2 separate regions of the Homo sapiens genome follow, and region 1 is linked to region 2. The links come from fine-mapping of genetic effects on plasma protein levels. Region 2 holds a variant in brackets. A gene starts in the other region. All regions are shown on their reverse strands.

What was found. PIP is the posterior inclusion probability: the model's chance that the variant is causal. The UK Biobank Pharma Proteomics Project read protein levels with antibody pairs (Olink). The fine-mapping took linkage between variants from a reference panel, not from the people measured, so its PIPs are less certain.
Region 1: LRPAP1 starts here. The variant in region 2 is fine-mapped to the plasma level of the LRPAP1 protein (UK Biobank, PIP 0.95).

Annotation. Positions count from the first base shown.
Region 1 is chr4:3,529,670-3,535,185 of GRCh38, reverse strand. It overlaps LRPAP1 (LDL receptor related protein associated protein 1), which reads left to right and starts at 2,764. Exons shown (of 8, transcript NM_002337.4): 1 at 2,764-2,977. The coding sequence starts at 2,774. RefSeq lists silencers at 2,525-2,584, 3,025-3,274 and an enhancer at 2,775-2,984.
Region 2 is chr12:123,740,871-123,745,870 of GRCh38, reverse strand. ATP6V0A2 (ATPase H+ transporting V0 subunit a2) reads right to left here. Exons shown (of 20, transcript NM_012463.4): 10 at 1,936-2,086; 11 at 1,534-1,670; 12 at 1,087-1,274; 13 at 899-989. Among named protein-coding and RNA genes, the nearest start is that of DNAH10, 19 kb to the left of the region's middle. The variant A/T (reference allele first, on the strand shown) is at 2,118.

The DNA of each region.
Region 1 (5,516 bases), not on the chromosome of region 2:
AAAGCCGGCCAGTCAGGGACAGCCCCACACTACAGAACAGGCCCAGGCAGCAAGAACCTTGTGCCCCTGAAGTCAGGCTGAACACTCTCACTTCTGAAAGCTGGACAATCCTCAATGCCAGGCTTCCCAAGAGACTCAATTTGTTTTGCTCTGAGAGATGGTCCTATAAGCACAGTTCCCCTTTTCTCTCGTAAGCAAGATACTCAGCTTCAGCACTGACCAGCCTCACAATCCGTCCTCACCAAGTGGAGGGCCCTCCCTCCGGGTTCCTCCACGGCCGTATCTGTCTCTGTTCATACACCTTCCCCTCAGCACTTAGAGACACGGGCTGGCATGGCGGGTGCTGGCGGCAGGGGTGAGAAATAAACTTTCAGCCCTAGAGGAGGAGCCCAAGAGGAGAGCATGCCGTCACCTGGAGTCTCTGGTATGTGCCTGGCACCTGTACTGATTGCATTAACCACTGTGATTTTTTAGAAGATGTACTAGTTTGAAATGTATAATACATACGGAGAAGTGTATGAAATATGTACAATTTAAAGATAAGGAAAAATGCATGCCTGTGTGCCCACCACCTAGTGAAGAACTACAACCTGGACACCACTTTGGAAGCCTGTCTGTGTTCACCCGTCGCATTCTCCCTCCTCCCCCAGCCCAGGTATCCTCCATCCTTTAGCCATCCCCTGACTTTCTTTAGTTTCATTGCCTGTGTATGCAGCCACGAATAAAATATTGCTTAGTTATCTGGGAAACCGGGCTGTATAGGAAAAGGGCTCTTAGAACCCCACACCACTGTCAGATGCAGGATCCCAGAAGACTCTGCTCCCAGTCCAGCTTCCAATTCCTGTGGGTTTATAACGGGCCTTTCTAGAGACACTGGGGGCAGGATTCACAGAGCTGGAACATTTGCAGTTAGGACCACATTCCAGATGACCAACAGGGACATGCTTGGGGGGGATAGGCCAATTTGGACTATCCCCTTCTAAGCCCACCAAGACCTACCTGTAGCTCTCAGGAGTGGGGTCAGGGCAAAACATGTATGTGGGGTAAAACAGGTGACCTCTGATTCTAGGCACCAGGAGATGGAGAGAAGAGCAGGAACGAGGGAACACAAGGGGAAGGCAGGCACAGGTGAGAATCTAGGCCAGGCTCACCTGGCCATTCTGTCCTGAGGCTTAAAAACATGCAATGATGGCAATGACAGCATTTGATCTGTCTCTGGAGTCACTTCGCATGAGGTCATTCTCCCTCCACCACCCTCCTGGGGGATTCCTTTACCTCCTCTCCCCCATACATCCCATATTGGGAACTTGTGCTTCCAGCTAAGATGCAGTAACAGACTGAATTTACCCTCTTGCCTGAAACAACTCAACAGCTGGAAAAAAAGAAATGAAACGATGGCTCTGAAAATACTAGAAAAGCAGCACAGGACAGAAGCAGATCACCTTGATTCCAGGGACCTGAAATCTTCTCTGGAACAACACAAGATACAATTTAAATGTAAATTAGGGTAGGCCCAGTGGCCCACGCCTGTAATCCCAGCACTTTGGGGGACCAAGACGGGAGGGTTGCTTGAGCCCAGGAGTTGGAGAACAGCCTGGACAACATAGGGAGACCTAATTTCTACCAAAAAATTTCAAAAATTAGCTGGGCGTGGTGACACGCACCTATAGTTCCAGCTACTTGGGAGGCTGAGGCAGGAGGATCGCTTTAGCCCAGGAGGTCGAGGCTGCAGTGAGCCATGATCATGCCACTGCACTCCAGCCTCGATGACAGAGACCCTATCCCCCCACGCAAAAAAAGGAAATGAATTAACATTAATTCCTCTCAAGATGCCCAGGCTCTATTCACCCCCTTTGTCATTGTCCCTCCAGTTGGAAATTCCTCCCTCCCCCCGCAAAATCCCGCCCACCCTTGGAGGCCTTTTCAGATCATTCTTGCCAGATGAGCTCCCCTTGTCCCTTCTCTGAGCCCAAAGGGGCCCAGCTGCTGTCTGTCTCCCTCCTTCCCCTTGTTTCCCGCGCTACCTCCAGGGCACTTCCCAACTCACTGGCCAAGCCCCCAACGAGCGGTCTATGCTAACTTTGGCTCTGTGAATTTCCTAGAGTGTCATGGGTTGGGGAAAAGCGCGCGAAGTCCTGCCTTGCAGCAGGCGCGAGAGCAGGCGCTTGGGACGCGGGTTGGGGCAGGGGCCCCGGGACGTAGGGGGACGTCTGCGCGGCCCTGCGTCCCCGGGACAACCTGGCCTGGGCTTACCCACGGCCAGGCGCTCCGCGGAGGGCAGAAGCGGGCTGGGCCAGGCTCCTCAGCGCCAGGCCCGGGCCGCAGTGCCAACCCCGCAACGGCACTGGACATGCAAGAGTCGGCGTCAGTGCGCGTGAAGCCGGAGCATTATCAGGCTCAGCCAAACGCGGCCCGGTTCTTGGGCTTTCCGCTCTTTCTGTGGGGCAGAGAGGGAAAGAGGCCTCGAGTCGTGCGGGCTCCAGGCTCCGGGCTCTGGGTGAGGCCTGATCCCTGCTCCCACCCGGCCACCCTCATTCTCCAGTTGTATCCCCTGCCAGAGTCTGCAGCCTCGGGCCGCGGCGTGGTTGCCTGGGAAACGCTTGCGCCTGCGCAGGGCTTCCTAGGCGCTGGAGTCCGCCGGCGGCCTCGCCGCTGCCGGCCGCTCACGGAGGAACTACAATTCCCAGGAGACCGCGCGGTGGGTGGGGGCGGGGTAGTGGGCGGGGCATCGGCAGGCTAGGTTTTCTCCGCGCAGCGCCAGTCGCAGAGGAAGATGGCGCCGCGGAGGGTCAGGTCGTTTCTGCGCGGGCTCCCGGCGCTGCTACTGCTGCTGCTCTTCCTCGGGCCCTGGCCCGCTGCGAGCCACGGCGGCAAGTACTCGCGGGAGAAGAACCAGCCCAAGCCGTCCCCGAAACGCGAGTCCGGAGAGGAGTTCCGCATGGAGAAGTTGAACCAGCTGTGGGAGAAGGCCCAGCGAGTGAGCGCGGCCCGCGGTCGGTGGAGCGGGGCCTGGGGGCGGGGGCCGTGGTTGGGGTCGTTGGAGCGGGGCCCAGGGGTCGGAGGCGGAGGGGGGCGCAGCCGGGGCACCTGTGCCCTACGCGCCCTGTCCTTGGCACAGCCTCCCCCAAGTGTCAGGTGGGGCGCCCCGACCCCTTCTGCAGCAGGAAAGGTACCCGTGCCGGCGACGACGCCGTGTGAAGCAGGTGGCGGCCGGCACCCCGAGGGTCAGTGTCGCCCTCCCCAGCCTGGGCGGCCTGCTGACCCGAGCGTAGGGACAGAACCAGGCTAGATCACAGGTCTCCTGCCTCCCGAGCCTTTGCCTGTTCCCTCAACCTTATCTCCCTATGTGGGGAAACAAGAAAAACAAAATGTTGGGTAGAAAGACGTGTCCAGGGACAGAAGGAATCCCAGTAGCAAGCCCGTGCTTGTTCATTTGAGCGAGAAATGAGGAGGTGAGGAGATGGGATCGGTTTAGAGCACATAAAACGCGACCTTGGGAATGCTGAAAGTCAGTCTTAACAGGGCGCTCACCTGACCTCTCCTTCATTTGAGAGATGAGGGTACGGAGGCCCCGAGGGGAAAGGGCACCCCCAAGGTGGCTCGGCCGGTGGGGCCCCCCGGGACAACAGCTTCCTAATTGGTGCGTGACCCTGGGCCAGCTGCTCTCTTCATTAAGATACGGTTGCTTCATTTGTTAGGTGTTCCTGAAAACACCTGAAATGGGTGTTTTCGAACTATGCCGACCATCTGGGCCTCATTATCTCATCTCAAATGCAGGAGTCAGATTAGATCTCTGTCTCAATAGTCCAGTTTTAAGCATTCCTGAGTCTTTGAGAGGGAAAGTAAGTGATTTGCAGAATAAGAAGGAACTTTTGGAACGAAAAGGGAGAGGAGAAACAGGTGGGGGACAGACAGACGACAGACGGTTATAAGACTGCGTGGGGATGGGGATTGACGCCTGGGCATCAGCTCCACAGGCCCTTCCTGAACTGCTCCTGGGACCAGCAGTCAAGCCCCAGGCGTAATGTTCAGCCTGCGGAGGTGGGAGGTGGGAGAACGCTCTGGGCTGGAGCGGCAGGGCGGCTTCTTGGAGGAAGGGATTCTGGAGGGGCTGGGGACACGGCTGGGTTTGGATGTGTTGATGGCCTCCCAGCAGCAGGGAACAGGTGTGACCAGGAGCAGCCGGGATGCAGTGCTGCCTCCCCGTGCCCACTGCACTGGGCATCTGTTGAGTGGGTGGAGTCCCCCCTCCCCATGAGGAATGGGGAGCCCGAAATAGACTCCCTGACCGATTGGAGGTGGCGCTGAGGAAGTGCACTCGGACCCAGGAACCCCAGCGGCTCCCTTTTGGGTGCTGGCCCAAGTCTTCCACCTGCTCTGCAGGGCCGCCCTGGTGCGCTCCACCTTACCTCCAGCCACCTCCAGCTGGTCCTCTGTCTTTGTCAGCCCAGGCCTCCTGCAGCAATACACCTGCCCTCAGGCTGCCCCTGCACTGGTCCAGCTACCCTCGGGCTGCCCCTGCACTGTCCCCCGGTGCTGGGTGCTCGCCTGACCAGTTTCAGTCTTGGGTTGGGTCATGTCTCCTAAACCTCCCTGAGGTTCACTGGGCACCATGGTAGGGCGAGCTGCTCACCTCCACTTTGGACTGAGCCTTGGACTAGATGATCTTTCTGGTCCCTTTAAGTCCTGAAGTTCTAGTTGTGTGGGCAAGTCTTTTTTGCTGAACAGAACGTGAAGTTCTTCGGGGGTGAGGGTGTTTTGGGGGATTTTGTGTGTCTTCCCCCATTCCAGAGAGCCTGGTACTATGGCAGGCAGGCCTGCAGAGCCCATTCGTCCTGATTTTCCTTCCAGATAACGGAAGCTTGGAGGGTGGCGGTGCTGTGAGGGTGTTCTATCCTGGAGCCAAGTGTGCAGGCGTCAGACCCGTCCGGGTCTTTTTGAGGTTCTCAGTGGCGGTAGTGCATCCCGGGTGGTCTTTGTGCTGTGGCTCTTTCTGCCGAGCGTGCCAGGGCCCAGGGTGGTCAGGAGGCAGGAGGAGCCACAGTCAGTTCAAACGTAGGGGGAGAGAATTGTTCGTGCAAATAGTCACTCCAGTCGGCTTCTTACCCCACCTGACTCGCCGCTCTAGGTAGGTATCAGACGGAGACGGGGTCTTGGATCGCCCCCTGGAAGATAATTGAGGTGAGGGCTGCTTTTTCAGAGAAGCACTTCCTGCCCGGCTCTGCAGCCACTGCTCTCAGCCTCCTGCGACCTGCGCTCAGCAGCCAGGACGGTCTTGTCCTTTCTTTGGTTTGCTTCATGAAAACATCGTGTCCCTGTTTTCTGCATGTAAAGCCACATCCTGGCATATAGGATTGCGTAGTGTGTCAGTAGGCATAGGGTGAAGGGAGCGTTTCAGGAAACCTTTGCCTTTGATGGGCTTGGGCTGTGAGACCTGCGTTGAGGTTGCCGCCAAGAAGATGCTGAGACCCGCTTTCATCAGGCGAGACCCGGCCAGGGGGGTGCTGCTTCATCCT
Region 2 (5,000 bases):
CTCAGTCATTCTTTTGATTCTCCAGAAAGACTCCTGACAGCTCAGGAAAACCCCACCCAACCCTGCAGTCCACTGCCTCAGCCACCGCCTGCTGAGCCCTCGAAGGGGTTGGGGGTCCTGGCACCCTGGGGCTACTTCTCCATTTTCTTTTTTTTTTTTTTTTGAGACAGAGTCTCTCGCTCCGTTGCCCAGGCTGGAGTGCAATGGCACCATCTCGGCTCACTGCAAGCTTCGCCTCCTGGGTTCACGCCATTCTCCTGCCTCAGCCTCCTGAGTAGCTGGGACTACAGGCGCCAGCCACCACACCCAGCTAATTTTTTGTATTTTTAGTAGAGATGGGGTTTCACCGTGTTAGCCAGGATGGTCTCAATCTCCTGACCTCATGATCTGCCCGCCTCGGCCTCCCAAAGTGCTGGAATTACAGGCGTGAGTACTTCCCCATTTTCTTTCTATTAACACTTTTCCCATTCCAAACAACTACCCCAATAAGCACCATAATAACCTCACGCTTCCTTTCAGCTCTAACACTCCATACCATTTCTTTCGAGATCAAGGGTTTTTAAAAGTTCACATATACGAGGAAGAAATGTAGGAAATGGCACACATTTCAGGGCTACTGAAGTGCCATTTTCAGCCAGAGGAAAATAGGTAGGACACATGACAGAACACAGCCCTGGCTCTCTGAGGACTTCCTCTGACCTCACCTTCCCAAACGGAGGGCCCCCCAGCTCCTGGCCTCCCCTCCCAGTGTCCGGGACTGGGATGCACAGGGGCTAATGAGCACCTCCCGCTCAGGGCAGCGTGAACCCTGCTCAACAGTCTAGAGAAACTCGTGGCGCCCGAAGCTAGGTGGCACCACAGAGCATCCAGAGACAACGACAGAGCGTGGTGCACTCACAGGATCAATGCCAAGGGGATAAGGGCCTCGGAACACTCCAGGAATGCTTGGATCCAGCTGCAAAATGCTGTTGTGTCTAACGACGCTGTCACTGTAACAAAAAGCAGAGTGAGGAGGCTGACCTGGGAGGAGGAAGGTCTAGGAAACATGCTTTCCACCCAGAGCATCACCAGCTATGGGACACTTACTTCCAAAGCACCATCTTCTTATGCTCTGCGGGTGGGTGGCTGGAGCTGTACATGGCCGACACGTTCCACCCAGAGCCGAACAGGTTGACTGACTTTGAAAAGCAGTCGTTGTAGATGAGGCCAGTGTACACTGAGAACAGCCCCATCAGCAGGAGGATGTACCGGCCATTAAAAAACATCCTCATGATCTGTGAAGGGCAAGGCGGGGGCAGAATATGGTTACTGGAGGGTGTCCATGTGACAGCTGTCGGTGTGGGCACGACCCTCACCACTCACTTCTCAGAAAACAGCCTCGCCCCGCAGACATCCCTGTCAGCCGCAGCTGACAGGCCACACACCTGCCCAGCACAGCCGCAGCCTACAGCAAACATCTAAGAGGTGTCTCTCTTTCGGTCACTGCTAATGCCACCTAACCAGATATATGAGCTGGAGTGTTTATATTTTTACCTCTTGTGACTGATTTAGTCTGGGATGATTTTCATTTAACACCAACAAGAGGGCAAATAAAAACATCACAAAGCCATGTCCGAAGTCTCCAAACATCACAGCAAATAAAAACGGGAAGGTGATGATGGTAAAGAGAGCTGCAGAAAAAAGGGAAAGAGATTTCTGATTCACAGCAAATATGGAAAACCTGAGTTCATTCAAACACAATGATACATAACAATCTTGACTTTCTCCAGAATTCACAAGATAGGATTGTGTGGTTACATTTAAAACCTTATACTTTTAAATAAGATAGCAAAAAAGTAATGGTCAGCCTCTCTTTCCAAATATCTATTCCATTCTTAGAGCAAGAATGCAACAATGCCATTGGAAATACGGGTATTTACAAATCAGACTTCCAACCTGGATTGACTTCTCTGTAGCTTCCGACTCCATAAGCATCCACGATGTTCTGAAATCCCTCGGTGAATTTGTTGGTGCGGATCCGAGTGGGGGGTGTTTCTTTTGTGGGGATTATATTCATGAATGAGGGGATTGTAGCACCACTCTCTCTCTTCCACATAAACAAGGAAAGATAAAAAATT[A/T]CTATCCAAGAAGAAAATAACTATCCATATTCAACGAATCTGGGTTACTGCTTTGTTTTTTGGTTTTTTTTGGTGGTGTTGTTTTGTTTTGTTTTTTTTTGAGACGGAGTTTCACTCTTGTTGCCCAGGCTGGAGTGCAATGGTGTGATCTCGGCTCACCGCAACCTCTGCCTCCCAGGCTCAAGCGATTCCCCTGCCTCAGCCTCCCTAGTAGCTGGGATTACAGGCATATGCAACCATGCCCGTCTAATTTTGTATTTTTAGTAGAGACGGGGTTTCTCCATGTAGGTCAGGCTGGTCTCGAACTCCCGACCTCAGGTGATCCACCTGTCTCAGCCTCCCAATGTGCTGGGATTACAGGTGTGAGCACCGTGCCCAGCCTTGTGTTACTGCTTTGGCAACGCTGTGTGTGTGGCTTTGGTGCAGGATTAATCTCCACTCAACAGGGTCAAGAGCAGCCAGAGGGCCTGGAGGAAAAGTCCATCTGTGAGGAATCAGGGGGTGGCAAGGGCGGCACTTGGGGCCTGTGGCCTCCAAGAAGGAAGGGTGAGAGCAGGACTGAATGCGCCGGAAGTGAATGGGGGCTGGGGAATGCGGGGCACGTGGGTATGGAGTCGGCTCAGTCACTGACAGAAAACCGACACTGAGTACTTTATCTCTTAAAAACGGTGAAGAAAGAGGAAGTTTGAGACAACTGCAATATACTTAATAAAAAAATGAGAAAGGCAAGAATAAACCAAAATGTCAACATGAATTCTATTATGGCAGAATCATAAATATAACTTTATCCATCAGTGTTTGCAATTCTTCTGAAATGCATTATATTGATTTATAATGAAAACACTTTTAAAATAAGGTAAACAGGTTATTGACAGAATAGTAGATTTTCTGGTCAAAATAAGTCTTTTTTTTTTTTTAAAGAAGGAGTCTCGCTCTGTCACCCAGGCTGGAGTGCAGTGGTGTGATCTCGGCTCACTGCAACCTCTGCCTTCCAGGTTCAAGCGATTCTCGTGCCTCAGCCTCCCAAGTAGTTGGGATTACATTGCACACCACCACGCCTGGTTAGTTTTTGTATTTTTAGTAGAGACGGAGTTTCACCATGTTAGCCAGGCTGGTCTCGAACTCCTAACCTCAGGTGATCTGCCCACCTCGGCCTCCCAAAGTGCTGGGATTATAGGAGTGAGCCACTGCACCCGGCCAAAATGTGTCTCTTAAAACGTATGCATGTAATGGGGTTCTGGGGAAATTCTCGAGGGTGGCACAGCTTTGAACGTCCCCAAGTCCCCTTCAGAACAGAAAGTGCAACCAGCTAGCAAGACCTAAAGCCTACGGATGGCATTTACAGCCAAACCACGTCCCCACAGTCCCCAAAATACAAATGGGTGAGGAAACCACCAACAGCTACAAGACCTACCCAGCAGCCTCCAGAGCAGAGGATGCAAGTAAGCAATGTGGCCTCCAAGGGGCCTGGGCCAACAACACCAAAAATGGCCAGAAAGAACCTCCCTGGGAAAGCAGAGGAGGCCAAACCACAAAAAGCAGCTGGAACTGGGAAGAGTTCTGTCCAGTCCAAGAGTAGGCGACGGCACAGGGGCCATGGGCAGTGAAGTCTGCAGGGGTTGGGGCAGGGCAGCCCAGTCCCTAAACTCACGGCACTGACCTGCCAGGTCCTCCCCTGTTGAGCGGCCACACGCTGAGGAGAAACTGCTGGGAGTGAGATCAAAACTGAGCAGGACAGGAACGAAAGAGAAAAGACAGAGGAGTTCACAAGAGAGACACAGAGGACATCTCAGATCCAGGACCCGACGTGTTTGCATTCAGTACACAAAAAATAAAAAAAAGAAAAAACCATCAGTGAGGTTAGGATCGCTATCCTGAACCTGCCATCTTCTAAAAGTTCCTTGAGTACCATAAACATCTGCCAGAAAACTATTTTCATGTAAATATACATTTATATTGCTTGTGTAATAATATAGAATCTCCTTGAGCAGGACAGGCATGGTGGCTCATGCTTGTCATCCCAGCACTTTGGGAGGCTGAGACAGGAGGGTCACTTAAGCCCAGGAGTTCAAGACCAGACACCGTCTTTTGTAGAGACCCCATCTCTACAAAAAAATATAAATAACTAACTAAATAAATAAATAAATTAGCCAGGCATAGTAGTGCATGCCTGTAGTTCCAGCTACTCAGGAGGCTGAGACGAGACGGGAGGATTGCTTGAACCCAGGAGTTTGAGATTGCAGTGAGCTACGACCATTACCACTGTTCTCCAGCCTGGGAAACAGAGTGAGACCTTGTCTAAAAAATGAATTTCCTTGAGCAGCTAAGCATCTTCACCATGTTCCATAAATCTTTTTTTTTTTAAACCTCCGCCTCTGGGGTTCAAGGGAGTCCCGTGACTCAGCCTTCCAAGTAACTGGGATAACAGGCACGTGCCACCATGCCTGGCTAATTTTTTTTCTATTGTGTATTTTTTGTATTTTTTAGTAGAGACAGGGTCTCGCCATGTTGGCCAGGCTAGTCTCAAACTCCTGGACTCAAGTGATCCGCCCGCCTCAGCCTCCAGAGTGCTGGGATTACCAGCGTGAGTTACCGCATCCAGCCTCAAAAGTCTAATTTCATTTAAAAGTGAGCAAGAGGAGGGAGAAGCCCAATCTTACATAAGGTCATAAGAAGAAAAAAGCCAAGGAGTAGAATACCATCCCCACAGACAGTGAGAAGATGCCAGAAAGAATGTCCACAAAACAAATAAAACCATTGTAACTTACTGTTTCAAAAGGAGTTAAAAGAATTAAAAAAAAAATACAGGACAGGAAAAAGCACCAGGAATCAGATTTTAAAAGACTCAGAAATGAGGTAACAGAACTCAAGAAGGAATTAGGA